Regions from separate parts of the Homo sapiens genome. Here region 1 is linked to region 2. The links come from fine-mapping of genetic effects on gene expression. A gene starts in region 2. The other region holds a variant in brackets. All regions are shown on one strand. Distances are between the middles of the regions. Region 1 overlaps NF1 (neurofibromin 1). Region 2 holds the start of OMG (oligodendrocyte myelin glycoprotein).

Evidence for each region.
Region 1: its variant is fine-mapped to the expression of OMG in spleen (GTEx, PIP 0.97).

The regions. Positions count from the first base shown.
Region 1 is chr17:31,207,849-31,210,779 of GRCh38, forward strand. The region is part of intron 12 of NF1 (neurofibromin 1); the gene reads left to right. Among named protein-coding and RNA genes, the nearest start is that of OMG, 88 kb to the right of the region's middle. The variant C/G (reference allele first, on the strand shown) is at 1,267.
Region 2 is chr17:31,295,766-31,298,696 of GRCh38, forward strand. It overlaps OMG (oligodendrocyte myelin glycoprotein), which reads right to left and starts at 1,474. Exons shown (of 2, transcript NM_002544.5): 1 at 1,391-1,474; 2 at 1-572. The coding sequence starts at 566. The region is part of intron 36 of NF1 (neurofibromin 1); the gene reads left to right.

The DNA of each region.
Region 1 (2,931 bases), 88 kb before region 2:
CTTTAAGTTTACTACCTTTTCTGGTAGAAAGTTAATGACCTCCAATAATAGGACTTGTTGGGGGGTTAATATTCACTTCCTATTTAACTTCAATATCCACTTTACCAGCTGCCCATAATTTTCTGTGAATAAGGACTAAAAATGAAACTAAATGATTATTTTGAACAGAGGTAAAATTTGATTGGTAGTCTAAATATGTTCTCTACACTTAGAAGTTATTTTACTTCTTAGCCCTAGTTATAAGCTGATTCTCAGAGCTACATATTATTTTACCGAAAAGCCATAACTAGAGAGGATTTCCTCTTTTGGCTCAAGGACACCTGTAATAAGAATTTAGTTTTTATTTCTAATTATTTTCTGAAAATATCAATATACATTTAATTTTCAAAATCATTCCTAAGCTGTTTATGTTTTTGAAATGTTATATGTATGTATATTTGTACATAATGACTAAAGGACAGCTTTTGGGCTGATATTACCAGGAGAGAAAATAAATAGCAAATGTAATATGAAACAATTTTTAGAATAAGAAAATTTTAGGTTTTGAATGGCTGTTAGGGTAAAATCTCACCCTTCATAAACTTGGTGAGTTAACAGTCAGATAACCAGTATGGAAGTATTGACCTTCTACTCTTTGCCAGGCAAAGGTGCTAATGCCAGGGAAGCATGGTGAACTAAACATACACAGCACTTCCCCTCACCGAGATTCCAAGCAAAAGGTTTATAGCTTTTGCTTGAAAATGTCTAATGAAGAACTCAACACCGGACACGGTGGCTAACGTCTGTAATCCCAGCACTTTGGGAGGCCAAGGTGTGCGGATCACCTGAGGTCAGGAGGTCGAGACCAGCCTGGCCAACATGGTGATACCCTATATCTACTAAAAATACAAAAATTAGCCAGGCGTGGTGGTGCATCCCTGTAATTCCAGCTACTCAGGAGGCTGAGGCAGAAGAATCGCTTGAACCTGGGAGGCAGAGGTTGCAGTGAACTGAGATGGCGCCATTGCACCCCAGTGTGGACAACAAGAGCGAGAATCGGTCTCAAAAAAAAAATCAAACAAAAAAACTCACTACAGGTGGCATGGAGTCTGGCAACACAGGCAAATATATATAATAAATGGTTTACAGATAATACCTAACATCAGAGTTTCCTACTGTTGGCACTATTAACATTTTGGACTGGATAACTCTGTTATAGGGGGCTGTACTGCGCATTGTGGGATATTCAGCAGCATCTCTGGCCTCTACCCACTAGATGCCAATATT[C/G]CCTTTACCCCCCAGCCCTCCAAGTCATGAAAACCAAACATGTCTCCAAACATTTCCAGATGCCCCTTGGGGGACAAAATCACCCCCAGTTGAGAACTACTGTATTACAGAGTATGTTCAGTGGGTTGTCCCTCATTTGTATTGCCTCAAATGATTTGGGACTGATAAACCTGAGCCATTAGCTTGCTTCAGAAGTAGCAATCTAGGAGTTCTGTTGCAAAACAGTAAAAGTAAAATAATATCTGCTTCAAGGCTTTACTAACACTTTGTATTTTGGAGAGACAAGTTACTTGTTGGAAGGAGCTAATTATTTGAAAATTTTCTCTTCGACCAAGATAGAATCATGTCTCTGTCACTTACAGCCATCACTGATCCTCTTTCTGTTGGAGCTCTATAGAATACTTCTGATTCTTCCACAAGGTGGCCCTGCAGATATTTGAATAAGGTTATTCTGTACTCCTAGAATTCGTTTTATTTTTATATCGTTTTGGCATTGGAAGGGATTTTATTCTTTTAGCTCTCTCTCTTTTTTTTTCTTCTTGAGACAGAGTCCCACTCCGAGTCCCACTCTGTCACCCAGGCTGGAGTGAGTGCAGTGATGCAATCTTGGCTCACTCCAACCTCTACCTTCCAGGTTCAAGTGATCTCCTGCTTTAGCCTCCCGACTAGCTGGGGTTACAGGTGCCCACCATCATGCCAGCTAATTTTGTGTTTTTAGTAGACCATTTAGCACCATTTTGGGCAGGCTACTCTTGAACTGTGACCTCAGGTGATCCACCTGCCTCAGTCTCCCAAAATGCAGGGCTTATAGGCATGAGCCACTGTGCCTGGCCTCTTTTAGCTCTCTTTAAAACTGTATGTGTGTTTGTTGGGTCTGTTTTTATAGCTAAAGAAACTGAAGCTTAAATAAAGTTATATTAATAACAAATGCATGGTTAATGAACAGTCAACCAGAGTTAGTTCTGAGGTTTCTTGACATTCAGTTCAGTGTCTTTATCAGGTTCTTTAGTTGTCCTTCTTCACTAGCAAGTTAGCTTGATGAAAGCAGTAGCTTTGTCTGGCTTAATCAACACTGAATCCCTAACGTTTGAACAACATCTGATACATATTGGGCATTTAGTACATGTTTGCAGAATGAATGAAGGAATGAATTTCTTACTTGATGTGGTTTCAAAATCCTCGTACAGGCCGGGCACAGTGGCTCATGCCTATAATACCAGCACTTAGGGAGGCCGGGGCGGGCAGGTCACTTGAGACCAGGAGTTTGAGACCAACTGGGCCAACATGGTGAAACCTTGTCTCTACTAAAAATGCAAAAAAATTAGGCAGGCGTGGTGGCAGGCACTTGTAGTTATAGCTACTCAGGAGGCTGAGGCAGGAGAATTGCTTGAACCCGGGAGGCGGAGGTTGCAGTGAGCCAAGATTGTGTCACTGCACTGTCAGCCTGGGCAACGGAGCGAGACTCTGTCTCAAAGAAACAAAAACAAAAAACAAAAAACCCTCCTGTTTCTGATTTGCTTCTCTTCTGGAAAGACCAACCTGACAAAAATTTTTAAAATTAAAATGCCATATTAAGATCTGATGTTAGTGATACAGATATAATACTATGATGTAATAATTGATAAAAGCTATTAAACTGCTGTGTTTGTATACCCTGTTTCTATT
Region 2 (2,931 bases):
TTTATTAATGTACCTGGAAGAATTTGTGTCAAAGAATTATTAGACAGGTCCACGATATGTAGTTTGGAGGGCATGTTGGTTGGAACTGTCCAAAGTTTGTTACTACTGAGGTTGAGAACCTCGAGACTTCTTAGTGTATTTTTAATGAGGACAACCTTTTCCAGCATGTTCTTAGAAACATCCAGATATTTAAGATTCCACTGATAAGCAGTATCAGATTTGTCAAGAAGTTTAATGTTGTTGTTAGCAGCAGACATGTTCCACAGAGACCGAGGTAAGTGAGCAGGCAGGCTTTCAAGCCTGTTGTTTGAAATGTCCAGGGTCCTCAGATTGGTATATTGGGTTAACTGGTTATGCAGATCAGTAAAGTGGTTATAAGACAGGTTTAAATGTATAATATTCTCTTGCAGTCCAGATGGTAATGTAGACAAGTTTCTGCCTGAACAGTCCACATGCCTGTGCCTCTCTGTGCATATACATTGGAGAGGACAAATGCATAAAATACCAGGTGTGAGAAACAGAAGGATGAACAGGCAGAGAGACATTTTCAATATCTGATATTCCATCAAAGCCTAGAAACAAACAGATACACCCTTCTTTTAATATGCAAATACAGTTTAGGCATCTGCATGGGTCAGTTAGCATTAGGCAAAATTTTCAATAAACCTCGTTGTTGTCGAGTCCTTTTATAATTGTTCCAGTGATTAAACTAACAAAGCTCCCCTTCATTTATAGTCCAAATGCTTAATCCTTCAATTGGGCTATGTGGTAGAGAGAGACTCTCTCCCTACTCTCTCCTGCATTTTCTCCTTTATTTTCTCTCTCCCTCCCCCCTTTTCTAACCATATTCTTTCTTATTTATCTTTCTAGAGCCTTAATATGATAAAATAGCATTCTTTGCAAATAAATAGTTGCAGTTGTAGGCTATTACTATTTTTGATGATATGCTTTCTTACTCAGATGAGAAAAAATGGCTGTCGTGTCTTTTTTTTTTAATCTCTGCAGTAATGTAATTCAATGTGTGTATATAGGGTAGATTTTATTTAGATATTAAAGCAGTTCTTCGAAATTTTATCTGTATGTTTTTAGGATAAATATATCTTTGTAAAAAGCACTTGAAAAATCCAGACCAACACAGTACCTATAAACCTCACATTTTATAAAGTGATTTTTTTCTGTATATTTCAGTGCCCATTTTAAAGGAAAACAATATGTATATTTACAGAGTGACTGAATGTATAAAAAATATCCCTCAACTGACACTGCAGCAAATTTCTGGTGCATGCACTTGCTATTGAATATATATTTAATCCTAACGTTGACTTTTTCTTAAAAGAAAAAGGAAAAAGATTCCAAAGTCAGCCTTTTACTGATTTAAATAACATCTTACCGTGGTGTCGTCTTCAACATCAGCATCTCATTTTCTCTGGGAAACTTAAAGGTCGTCTTGTTCTGTAGAGTCGGAACTGTTTCTGGCTGTGGGCTGTGCTTGCCTGCTCAGCTGCATTGTGTTGCTGTGAGCTGAAGCTCTGCAACCACCTGATCAGTACCACATAGGAGGACTGCAGAGCTGTCGCTGGTGCTGACTCAAATTTATGGCAAGAGGTGCACACGCAACAAAATGGACAATTTTTTAAAAAATTTGTGGCATCAAGCGTACCTATATATCTGATTTGCTATAGGATGGGATACCTTATGCATGAGAGTTGGCCCTTACTCCTTTCTATGTATTTGTCTGAGATTGGGTTCCATATTTTAACATTTGCCTCATTAAGAATCTGTGAATTTTTAAAATACCTCTACTCTTTATCCTTTTTACATGTTGAAAATAAATTTGACCTTCCTCATGGATAGTTTTCTATGATATTAGTCCCACTATTTTTTAACTCCTGCCTTTTTATATTCCTTTCTAAAATTGTATAATTTTCATGTCACTTTTTTAATATTATAAAAAATCTGTTTTATGACTTTTATGTCTTCCCCCAACATGGTGATTATTATGTTTAATCAGCTTTTCAAATTTATCAACCACTTAAGTGTTCCGTCTTCCCTTTTAGGATGTATAGAAGTACTGAAATACGATTATTTTTTCTTTATCTTTCTGATACAATGATCATTTGACCAAGGCTACACACAAGCCAGGATACATTTGGAAATTAGCATCTTATACTTCAGATTATCAGTTCCTATGTAAAATAAACATGTTTTATTTTATATATTTGGAGTTAAAGTTTTTTTTCTTTATGCAACCTTGGGTGGTAAGTGGATATGAGTATTGTTTTTTCCAAAGACATTTTTGGTGCTGTATGAATGACCATTTATTTGATTTTATGTTTTAAGAATAGCAGTATCAATTTAGGTGATTTCAGAGTGTTGCACATTTCATCTTTCTGGGAAAGTAGTTTATAGTTTTAAAATTACATGAAATGATATAAAAGGAAAATTTTTCATCATGAGTTTTATAAAGTGAGATCAGATTTATGATAAATTTTGCTCCACTCTTCAGTGGACTGCTTGTGTAAATCTGTTAAAACACAAATCTGATTTCCAGAATGGCAAGTTTAAAGAAAGCAAATAAAGTTACGGTATTTTCGTTACCAAGTGGCACCATTTAAAAACGAGTAATATTTAGCATGTTATGTGTAAGGAAAGTCTCTTTATGCCTTGTTACTAAATCGTTTGTTTTTCTCTAAATTATATTAGCATTATTTAGATTATACCACAAATAGAATTTGTTGTATTAAAATTTGAAGTTTATTTTCTTACAAGAGAAACTATACTCTAGGAGCCACCTTTTGTATAAAACTAATGTTCCTCGAAAAGTATCTGCATTTTAAGAGTCCGCAACATAGAAGTTTATTGTTGATTGGGTGCTTTATTGCCACTTTACTTTGAGGGTTCAGTTGAACTCTCAATTGGATTCTTACTGTG